Linked DNA regions of Homo sapiens. The protein of the gene in region 1 interacts with the protein of each later gene in a pairwise test. Each region holds a gene or a part of one and is shown in the gene's direction. Other genes may lie near its edges.

Region 1 (3,754 bases):
CCAGGAATTTCCTAAGACCATAGTGGGAGACAGCTGCATCAGAGGCCTCCCAGTGCCATAGGACCATGGACATTGGTGAGCAACTGTGTGCTGGGAGGAAATGGCTGCTTATTGGCATGGAGTTATTGAATGCAGAACTTTTCAGCCAAGCACAGTGCTATTCTTCTGAAATCATAACATCATGAGGACATCCACTGCTTGTACTCAAATAGCATTCCTCACAGGAATGTCACACCTGTGACTCTCTCATACCTCCAAAATCTCACTGCTGTTCTGAAACGCAAGAGATTTTGCCAAGGAAATGCTGACATTCCTTCTGTCCACTCCTCTCCCCACACTGCACTGTGTGGCCCCAGAGAGGAAAGACAAGGGCTGTTACCATGGAGTTCTTGAATTTCATTATTTATCTCCCAACACAACTTTGGCCTCACCCTCTTCCCCAGCGTGAAGACGCACAACCCAAGTGGGACAGTCTGAATTTCCCCACCCTCAGGTGTCAGAGAATCAGAGGAAGTCATGCTGCTTATCTAGAATCTGCTAGAAATGGAGTTCACCCAAAGAATGACCATCACAGAATTTATGAACTACTCCTAGATCATGCAATTAATAAGTCCTCTAGCCCAGTACCACTCAAGGTAGGGTCTGGGCCCCAGTACCAGTCCATAAACAGTTTGCTGCCGGCTGGGTGTGGTGGCTCATGCCTATAATCCCAGCACTTTGGGAGGCCAAGGTGGGCGGATCACTTGAGATCAGGAGTTTAAGACCAGCCTGGCCAACATGGTGAATCCCCGTCTCTATAAAAAGTACAAAAATTAGCCAGGTATGGTGGTATGTGCCTGTGATCCCAGCTACTCGGGAGGCTGAGGTGGGAGGATCACCCAAGCCCAGGGAGGTCGAGGCTGCAATGAGCCACCGTGATGGTGAACTGCACTCCAGCTTGAGTGACAGAGTGAGATCCTGTCTCAAAAAAAAGGGCGGGGTGCGGGGATTTTGGGTAGTAATATCAATAGCAGACAAAATAGAATTTGAGGCAAAAAGTGTTAATAGGATCAAGATTTTTTTTTTTAAAGAACAATCCACCACAAACATAGCAATCATGAACAACCCAGAAAACAGCATGAAAATTAAAAGGAAAATTGAGATTTTAAATACTTCTAATAGAGGTGATAGAGCAGGCAGCAGGGAAGTTAGTAACCTTGTCTAATAGGTTATCTGTACTCAACAAGCCTAGAACACACACTCCTTTCAAGTACCTGAGGAATGTTTATAACAGTAAAGATGAACAGAGATCATATTATAAATAGTTGGAAGATTTATTTTTTATTTTGTTTTTTAGAAACAGGGTCTTGCCGGCCAGGCGTGGTGACTCATGCCTGTAATCTCAGCACTTTGCAAGGCCGAAGCGGGTGGATCACCTGAGGTCAGGAGTTTGAGACCAGCCTAGCCAACATGGCGAAACCTCGTCTCTACTAAAAATACAAAAATTAGCTGGGCGTAGTAGTGGGTGCCTATAATCCCAGCTACTTGGGAGGCTGAGGCAGGAGAATTGCTTGAACCGGGAGGGTAGAGGTTGCAGTGAACCATGGTCGCACCACTTCACTCCAGCCTGGACAAAAGAGCAAAACTCCATCTCCAAAAAAAAAAAAGAAAAGAAACTGAGTCTTATGGCTGGATGCAGTGGCTCACGCCTGTAATCCCAGCACTTTGGGAGGCCAAGGTAGGTGAATCACTTGAGCCCAGGAGTTTGAGACCAACCTGGCCAACATGGCGAAACTCCATCTCTACTAAAAATACAAAAGTTAGTTGGGCGTGGTGGTGTGCCCCTGTAATCCCAGCTACTCAGGAGGCTGAGGCAGGAGAATTGCTTGAACCCAGGAGGTGGAGGTTGCAATGAGCCACTGCACTCCAGACTGCATTCCAGCCTGGGCGACAGAACAAGACTCTGTCTCAAAAACAAAAACAAAAACAAAAAACTAGGTCTTTCTCTGTGGCCGACGCTGGAGTGCAGTGCCTTTTTGCAGGCACAATCATAGTGCACTGCAGCCCTGAACTCCTTGGCTCAAGTAATCCTCCTGCCTCAGCCTCCTGAGTAACTGGGACTATAGGTATGCCCTACCATGTGTGGCTATATTTGGTAGGTTTTAAATGAAAAGATTTTTGTTTTCTGTACATTTATTTAAATTTAAAAAGTATTTAAGCCATCTTTAAGAAACTTAATGTTGAGAATGTTCTAGAATAGTGAGTCATTAGATTTCAAAATATTGGTATTGAACCAGATGGTCTTGTGGCTTCAAAGAAGTCTCTGAAGTCACTCCAGGTGATATTAAAAGTACAGTGCTAGGACTGTCTGACCCAAAATATGTGGCTGGAACCAGAAAGGATATAAGCATGGTTTGAGAAGGAAAAAAAGCTTAACAAGGGGGAATTGAGGAAGCCATTTGCAAAACTTCACAGGAAAGTTAAATGAATGAATGAATAAAATGTGATTAATAAATATGGGGGCCAGGTACAGTGGCCTGCATCTGTAATCCCAGTGTTTTGGGAGGCCAAGGCAGGAGGTGCACTTGAGGCCAGGAGTTCAAGACCTGAGCAACACAGCAAGACCCCCGTCTCTATAAAAAATTTTATAAAATTAGCCGGGCATGGTGGTAGACACCTGTAGTCCCAGCTACTTGGGAAGATGAGGCAGAGGATTGCCTGAGCCCAGGAGTTTGAGGTTATAGTGAGCCATGACTGTGCCACTGCACTCCAGCCTGGGCAACAAAGTGAGACCCTGACTCTAAAAGTAAAATTAAATTAAATTAAAAATAAGTGGATAAATATGGGTTATGCTGTGAAGCATAGAGGGAGGGATGAAGAGGGACATTTTAAGCCACTTCTCTGGCCCCAGTTTCTAACATTATTTCTAAAATGCAGGATATCTGGTTATCCCAAACCAGTTATATTTTTATTTAAATTTGCTCAAAATTTTTATTTTTAAATCTTAACAATTTCTAAAATCACACTTTTTAATTTATTTTGTATTTTTTTGAGACAGGGTCTTACTTTGTCACCCAGGCTGGAGTGCAGGGGCACAAACATGGCTCACTGCAGCCTCGACCTCCCAGCCTCAAGTGATACTCCCGCCTCAGCCTCCCAAGTAGCTGGGACTACAGGCATGCACCACCACACCTGGCTAATTTTTTTATATTTTGTTTGTAGAGATGGGGTTTCACCATGTTGCCCTGTCTAGTCTTGAAACCTTGAGCTCAAGAGATCTGCCCACCTTGGCCTCTCAAAGTGCTGGGATTACAGGCGTGAGCCGTCCTGCCTGGCCTAGTCACACTTTTTTTTTTTTTTTTTTTTTTGGAGACAGAGTTTCACTCTTGTTGCCCAGGCTGGAGTGCAATGGCATGATCTGGACTCACCGCAACCTCCGCCTCCTGGGTTCAAGCGATTCTCCTGCCTCAGCCACCCAAGTAGCTGGGATTATAGGCATGCACCACTATGCCCGGCTAATTTTGTATTTTTAGTAGAGACAGGGCTTCTCCATGATGGTCAGGCTGGTCTCGAACTCCTGACCTCAGGTGATCTGCCCGCCTCGGCCTCCCAGTGTTGGGATTATAGGCATGAGCCACCGCGCCCAGCTAGTCACGCTTTTTAGTCAAGATTTTTAAAAATGTCTGCATGCTTTTCTGAGAGCCTTACCTCTCTTGTGATTTGAAGCATTTTCTCCACCAGGCCTAAGGCTGAAGGAATGTAGTTTGCTGCCCTT
Region 2 (3,754 bases), on another chromosome or scaffold:
CGGTCACTGCAAGAAAGAAGGAATGTAGGGGCTAATGGCATAGGCTATCAGAGCAACAAAGAGCAAGCACCTAGTGATCTTTTAGAGTTTCTTCATTCCCAAATTGACAAAGCTGAAGTTAGCATAGGGGCCAAACTACCCAGTGAGTATGGGGTCATTCCCTTTGAAAGTTTTACCTTAATGAAAGTATTTCAATTGGAAATGGGTCTCACTCGCCATCCTGAAGAAAAGCCAGTTAGAAAAGACAAACGAGATGAATTGGTGGAAGTTATTGAAGCGGGCTTGGAGGTCATTAATAATCCTGATGAAGATGATGAACAAGAAGATGAGGAGGGTCCCCTTGGAGAGAAACTGATATTTAATGAAAATGACTTCGTAGAAGGTAATGTGAAAAATATGTTGGTCAATATTATGTTAGTAAGACAAATGCTAGTATTGTATGCTGGTATTGTATTGTAGTATTGTACTGTAGACAAATGCTAGTATTGTATTGTAGACAAATGTTAGTAATATAAGTCAGTCATTATCCACAGTATTAAAACACTGAAAGTTTTTGCACTTCATTGCACCAAGAATTTTAAGTGGCCTTCTGGAAAAAGGTATGAGATCATAATAAAAATGGAGAATAAGGACTAGGGAAATAGAATAAAACAGCTCTTGTTGCATGTGTATGATTTATATTCCTCACTTACCTGATCTTGGTGTTCTTTTTTATGTTTTTAAAAAATGTGTAAACTAAAACTCAAAACTTGAAAACCATTTGATAAAGGAAAGAAAAAATTAGTAGACTCTTAGCTATTTTTCGTATTGGAGGAAGGAGAAGCTCATGTCTGAACAAGGGGTTATACATAGTTTAAAAAGCACATTTGGCATTTGGAAAAGTAAGGAAATACCTGTTTTCCTAATACATATTTCAGAAAGGGTATGGAATTTTTATGTATCAAGATGGGATGTGACTCAGAGGTTGAAGAACACTGCTATAAAATTTAAGATATTGATTGATATTAACAGTAATAATTCTAGATCCCTACCCATCTCCTTTACACTCACTGCTAGACATTTAATTGCTGACTTAAACCATTTTAAAAATAAATGTTTCTTGAAAGTTCTCTTTGCTTGATTCTATAAACTGTGTTATCACAGTGGTCCCCAGCCTTTTTGGCACCAGGGACTGGTTTCATGGGTGACAATTTTTCCATGGGATGGTGAGGATGGTTTTGGGATGAAACTGTTCCACCTCAGATCATCTGGCATTAGTTAGATTCTCATAAAGAGCGTGCAGTGTAGATTCCTTGCATGTGCAGTTCACAACAGAGTTTGCTCTACTTTGAGAATCCAGTGCAGCCACTGATCCGACAGGAGGCGGAGCTCAGGCGGTAATGCTTGCCAGGCTCCCATCACTCACCTCTTGCTGTGCCGCCTAGTTCCCAACAAACAGGCCACGGACCAGTAGCGGTCTGTGGCCTGGGGGTTAGGGACCCCTCGTATAGCACATGTAGACTTTTTGACTCCAAATCATCATGGCCATCACTTGCTGCACTGTAGCATTATTATAATACACTGAGGCCCTTGGAGGCCATCAGGGAGGGCATTATGCTTTGCAGTGGCATTGCAGCTGCCTTTCCTTGTGGCCTCCTCTTTTTTCTGCTGTCACTTCCTGCCATTTTTGATGGATTATTTTTCTCAAAACTCTTCTGATTTTTCTGCAAGCTCAGCTTTTTGTCTTCTCACTGTATGTTTGTAGCTTATGGCAGAATTGGAAGCTGCGGAGGAAATAAGATAACTAAGTAACATGTGTAAAATGTCCTCACATCAGCTCTACCTAAAAAGAAAGGGAGCTGTGCCAGTTTTATATTCTGCAGCTCCTGCTTTTGTCTTATAACTCTCCTTGGATTCTGATACTTCAGGATTTTTCTCTAAATGGAACATATTCTGTTCCTCACTTTTCCTCTACTGTGCCACTGTCTGCCCACTGCAGGGAGAATAATTACTAATAATTAGTAATGACAACTAATTCCTATCCCTCTTCTAAACTTTAGCTCAGATATCACTTCTTCTGAGAAGTCATCTGCAACCTCAGGTCTAAGACAGCAGTACTTCTGTGTGCTCTTGTCACCTGTACATTCATACTGCTTGTCACAGTATGTGGCATTGCCCATTTCCTGGTTTGTGCTTCCTACTAAAGTGTAAGCCTCAGGAGGGTTGGGACCAAGTCTATTTTATTCACCATTTTATACCCAGATATTTACTGAGTGACTCACACATCTGTAGGTCTAACCTTCTTCTCTCTCCTGAGCGCCATACTTAAAAATCAGATTGCCACTGGGCGCAGTGGCTCACTCCTGTAATCCCAGCACTTTGGGAGGCCGAGGTGGGCAGATTATGAGGTCAAGAGATCAAGACCATCCTGGCCAACATAGTGAAACCCCGTCTCTACTAAAAATACAAAAATTAGCTGGGCGTGGTGACACACGCCTGTAGTCCCAGCTACTTGGGAGGCTGAGGCAGAAGAATTGCTTGAACCCGGGAGATGGAGGTTGCAGTGAGCCAAGATTGCACCACTGCACTCCAGCCTGGTGACAGAGTGAGACTCCGTCTAAAAAAAAAAAAAAAAAAAAAAATCAGATTGCCTCGTAGATGCGCATGCTTTTCTCTCAAAGGCATCTCAAATCACTGTGTTTAAATCTGTACCAATTTTTCTTTGACTTCACTCTAGTCAGTGATTTTATATGTATGTATGTATACACACATATATATATACAGATATATATATATATCACATAGCACTATATTGTTATTATTTGTCTATTTTTCTGTCTCCTTCACTAGACTGGCCCTGTCCTCAAAATTGAGACCATGTGGCACTCTTTGTATCACATAACTGACACGAAGGCACTCGATTTCTTTTAGTTGACCTAAACCAATAGAAATTTTGGCTCTTGGGTCTAGATTTTAATATTGCTAGAAGTAATTTCTTTATTTATCATGATTACCATATTGATAGGCTCTAGTATTTTTAAAAAGTCGTATGTAAAAAGGAACAATTGTCATTTGTAGTATATTTTATAGATTGAATAAAATAACAGAACAGTGAACTTTTTTTTTAACCTTTTCTTTTAAGCGAGTAATTGTTACTGTGCAGTGGGGATAAGTATTTTCACAAATAGGTAAAAATCCTGCAGGTCTAGTTTAATACCCTTTATGTTTAAGTGAGTAAAATCTGTCTTCCCATTGAATTTGTAAACTTTGACATGGAGACGTCTTTGTTCCTAACTCTTTCCTTTAGGTTATTATCGCACTGAGAGAGATAAGGGCACACAGTATGAACTCTTTTTTAAGAAAGCAGACCTTACGGAATATAGACATGTGACCCTCTTCCGCCCTTTTGGACCTCTCATGAAAGTGAAGAGTGAGATGATTGACATCACTAGATCAATTATTAATATCATTGTGCCACTTGCTGAAAGAACTGAAGCATTTGTACAATTTATGCAGAACTTCAGGTAACTGTCAGGGCTTAATGATTAAGCTACATTCTCCTAAAAAAAATCACGTTTTACTCAGATTTCCTTAATTTATCTTCACCGATTATAATTACTTAGAATAATTTTACAGGCTTTAGGGGAACTTTATTTTTTTATATTCTCTCTTTTTTTAAAGCATGTGTAGTATATTGTGTTATAGACAATTTGAACTATGAAATAAATTAAGAGTGACACCTATTAGAAACTAAATTTGATGGCCTTGATAATTG
Region 3 (3,754 bases), on another chromosome or scaffold:
CACTGCTCTCATGTTTTTTTCATAGCTGTTTCAAAAATATTTCTTGATAATTATGGCATGCTCTTTTTTAGTCAATCAAGTAAGAAACTTTTGAAGAGACATATAGTTAACAGTTTGTGGGAAGGGAGTTCTGAAAGGAGGCATTTGGGGTGACTTTTTAAGTAGGTTTGCCTGACATTGCTCTACTTTGTGAAATGACCAACTTAAATTAATGTATACTTTTAGCCCCCGAACCTAGTATTCCTTATTACTTGTAATTCAAAGGAATTGTGCTGTTTTACTTTGCATGCTTTCTTTAATTACAAAATTGTCTACAGTATCTTATATATAGTTGTTATAATTTTTACATATTTTTTTCCATCTTGAAAATGATTTTGTTTTCATAGTAGTGTTTAGCATTCAGTATTTTACTGTAATAAAGTGTGATATGCTATATTTTTGGTTTCTTTTTTCTTCCCTGTTTTACTGGTTCAATAAACAGTCCAGTAGTAAGCAATACTTTGTAAAGATACTGAAATAGTTTTGTGCCTATGTGTTTTGTCTCTTCTTTCTTTAATGCTGCTGTAGTCATTTCCTGGAAGGATATTTTCCGTTAACAGCTTTGTCTTGGAAACAACTAACATGCAGTAGGTTTCCCCCTCCCCCCATCTTTTGGTAAGGACTATAATACTGAAATTTTGAAAATTATTACTACATTGAAAATCAGCTAAACTGCAATCTCAAAACATAAATTACACTTAATCATTGGTGCTTATGCTTTGGCTAATGCTAATTTAAATAGACTTCTGCATGTATACTTCAAAGTATTATAAATACATTTCTGCTTTATAAAACTGATCAAATGAGAAGTGATCATTGAGTAGTTAACCACTTCCTATCTGGTATTACAGTTAATTTATGTGCTCAACAACAACAAAATTGGCTCCCAGATAGCTACTTGAAGTAACCTATAGTCATAACTGCCAGGGAGAATATTGTCACAAGTTGAATCTGGAAAGGCATTGTAAGGCCAGTGTACTAAGATTTTGATGACTCTACAAATTATATTTTCTGAACTTGTGGATACACGTTTCACTATGATTAGGTGGTTTTTGCTAAATTGGGCAATAAAAGTTAAAGAACCATGATTTCCAAAGACATAAAACAGCCTCATGTTAAGAATAAGCCTTTTCCTCCTTTATGGAAGAGAGATTGAAAATTGTGCAGATGGTATAATGAAAATTCTCTGTAAAATCTAGGTAGTAAAGTGGTTAACGTATAATTTGATTTTTGTTGTGTAACAATTTGTGATTCAAAAACTTTGTATTTTGACAGATGATCTTCCAAAACCCAAGACTACTGAAGTAATTAGGAAAGGCTCAATTACTGAATACACAGCAGCAGAGGAAAAAGAAGATGGACGACGCTGGCGTATGTTCAGGATTGGAGAACAGGACCACAGGGTTGATATGAAGGCAATTGAACCCTATAAAAAAGTTATCAGCCATGGGGGTAAGAGTTACTGAGGATTTTTCAGATTGTTTAATGCAATATCAGAATTCTTTTTTTTTTGGAAGGATATCTGTTTATTAAGAGTAAATAAGCCCTGTACAGAACACAGGCGCTAGGTTGAGAGACTCGTCTTTTGTAGGACATTTCTTCCTGCTAACCAGTTCCTGGAGGGCTTGTTTTTTTTGTAACTTTACACAAGGGGCACTAATGGAAAATATAGCTTTCTCAAGACATCTGATGTCAGTTTCCCATTGTTTTGCTTCACAAACATCAACAAAGTAAACCTGAACATGCTTAGCAATTTCCCAATGTTCTTTGCTGACATTACTTTTGACATACTGTGTCAAAATTCTTAAGGTCTCCCCTCCTTTGGTAAAGTAGGCAAAACCTTACAAGGAAAACACTATAATACGTGGAAATATACTGAGTTAGATTTCCAGTCACCTGCTCTATGGCTCTGAGATGCACTATATCCATAATGGTTCCTAGGACTGTGTCCACCTGATGGTTTGGAGTACGGAAAACCAACCCTTATGGCTTAAGAGTCATCTCCCATGGAAGACGATGCTGGCCTTCTGAACGCTGGGGCTCATGGGCTTGTTGATGTGGCTTTCTGGTGTGCCAGGATCCCCTGGCAGCTCCTGTATACTTCAGTCAAGCAGTCCAGCCGGGGCTTGGCACTCTGGAAGACGGGTACTACTTGGGATATCCCATGTGGTTCCACTGGATCCTTCAATAAGATGCAGAGGTAGTAAATCACCTTCTGCATGTAAATAGCCTCATTGATGACAATATCCTTGACCTTGCCCATTTCTATGAAGGTAGTGCTTTCTTAGCCTGAAGCATAAGATGAAGTCATCTGAATGCCAAGGGAATCAATGATTAACAGTCTCCTGATCAATCTTCACAAAATGGAGATAACCAAGCAGACCTAAGAGGGTGATGAAGATGGCAGCAGAGAGGATCATGCTGTTCTCGCAGAGGGTGAAGAGTCCGTAGGCTGCCAGCCACACCGTGCAGGTGACAGCGGTGAGCGAACGCAGCGAGAGCCCAGGGCAGCTGAGGCAGAATTCCCGGCAGGAAGGGAAGTAGTAGCGGCGCTGCAGGGCCAGGCGGCCACCGCAGATATCCGAAAAGCTCCGCTCATCCTCCATGACACCCCAACTCTGCCGCCCGCACCGCACCGCGCGGCACTCCACTGCGCTCGCCTGCCCTAGCCGTTTCATGCAATATCAGAATTCTAAATACTTTTAGAAACTCTGCCTAGAGATATTATGTAATTTTGAAAGAATAATAAGCATTTCTCATTCATTTTAGAAACATGACAGGTTTAAAGTAAAAGAATAAAAGTACCATTTAAAAATGATTATATGCATACAGTAAGTTGAAAAAGTACAAAAGAATTTGTAGTGAAAACTGTCAGGTTGGGCACGGTGGCTCAGGTTTGTAATCCCAGCAATTTGGGAGGCTGAGGCAGGAGGATTACTTGAGCCCAGGAGTTCAGGACCAGCTTGGGCAACATAGACCTCGTCTCCACAAAAAAATAAAAAAAATAAAAAAATAAATAAAATTAGCCAGGAGTGGTGGCATATGCCTGTAGTCCCAGCTACTTAGGAGGCTGGGGTGGGAGGAGAGAGAGCTTGAGCTTGGGAAGATGAGGCTTCAGTGGCCGTGATCATCCCACTGCACTCTAGTTTTTTGTTTTGTTTTGGTTTTTGACCCTGTCTCAAAATTAAAAAATTTTTTAAACTGTCTCTAGGCTACCCAAAACTGGGACTGAACAGTCTCCCTAATTTATAAACAGTGAAATGCTCTGATCTTAAGTGTGCAGTTCAATGAGTTTTGACAAATGCCTATATAACCATATATACCCATATATATAAAACCCATACCCCTAAAAATGTAGAACATTTTCATTGTCCCAGAAGAATTATTTAGTACCCCTGTGCAATGAATACTCAGCTTCGGTAGCCACTGTCATATCTACCCCCTGATTAGTTTTGCCTCTTCTAGAATTTCATATATAGTAACTAAAATCATCCTATGCACTCTTTTGTTTACTTTTCAGCATGAAGTTTTTGAGATTCATCCATGTTGTTGCACGTATCCACAGTACATTCCTTCTTATTGCTGAGTAGTTTTCCATTGCTTGGATAAACCATAATTTGCTTATCCGTTTTTTTTTATGTGCATGTGAGTTGTTTCCAGCTTGGGCTGTTATAAACAAAACTGCTTTGAACATTCTTGTAGAAGTCATTTATGG

What was found.
Region 2: the proteins of SLC35E3 (region 1) and CSGALNACT2 interact in binary tests that used the Homo sapiens proteins (3 or more experiments, as listed by UniProt).
Region 3: the proteins of SLC35E3 (region 1) and BNIP2 interact in binary tests that used the Homo sapiens proteins (3 or more experiments, as listed by UniProt).

Annotation. Positions count from the first base shown.
Region 1 is NC_000012.12:68,777,157-68,780,910, forward strand, and holds part of SLC35E3 (solute carrier family 35 member E3), read left to right. Parts: 3' UTR 1-3,754. UniProt on the Homo sapiens protein: Putative transporter.
Region 2 is NC_000010.11:43,155,429-43,159,182, forward strand, and holds part of CSGALNACT2 (chondroitin sulfate N-acetylgalactosaminyltransferase 2), read left to right. Parts: coding exon 1-382; intron 383-3,286; coding exon 3,287-3,503; intron 3,504-3,754. UniProt on the Homo sapiens protein: Transfers 1,4-N-acetylgalactosamine (GalNAc) from UDP-GalNAc to the non-reducing end of glucuronic acid (GlcUA). Required for addition of the first GalNAc to the core tetrasaccharide linker and for elongation of chondroitin chains.
Region 3 is NC_000015.10:59,675,648-59,679,401, reverse strand, and holds part of BNIP2 (BCL2/adenovirus E1B 19 kDa protein-interacting protein 2), read left to right. Parts: intron 1-1,314; coding exon 1,315-1,491; intron 1,492-3,754.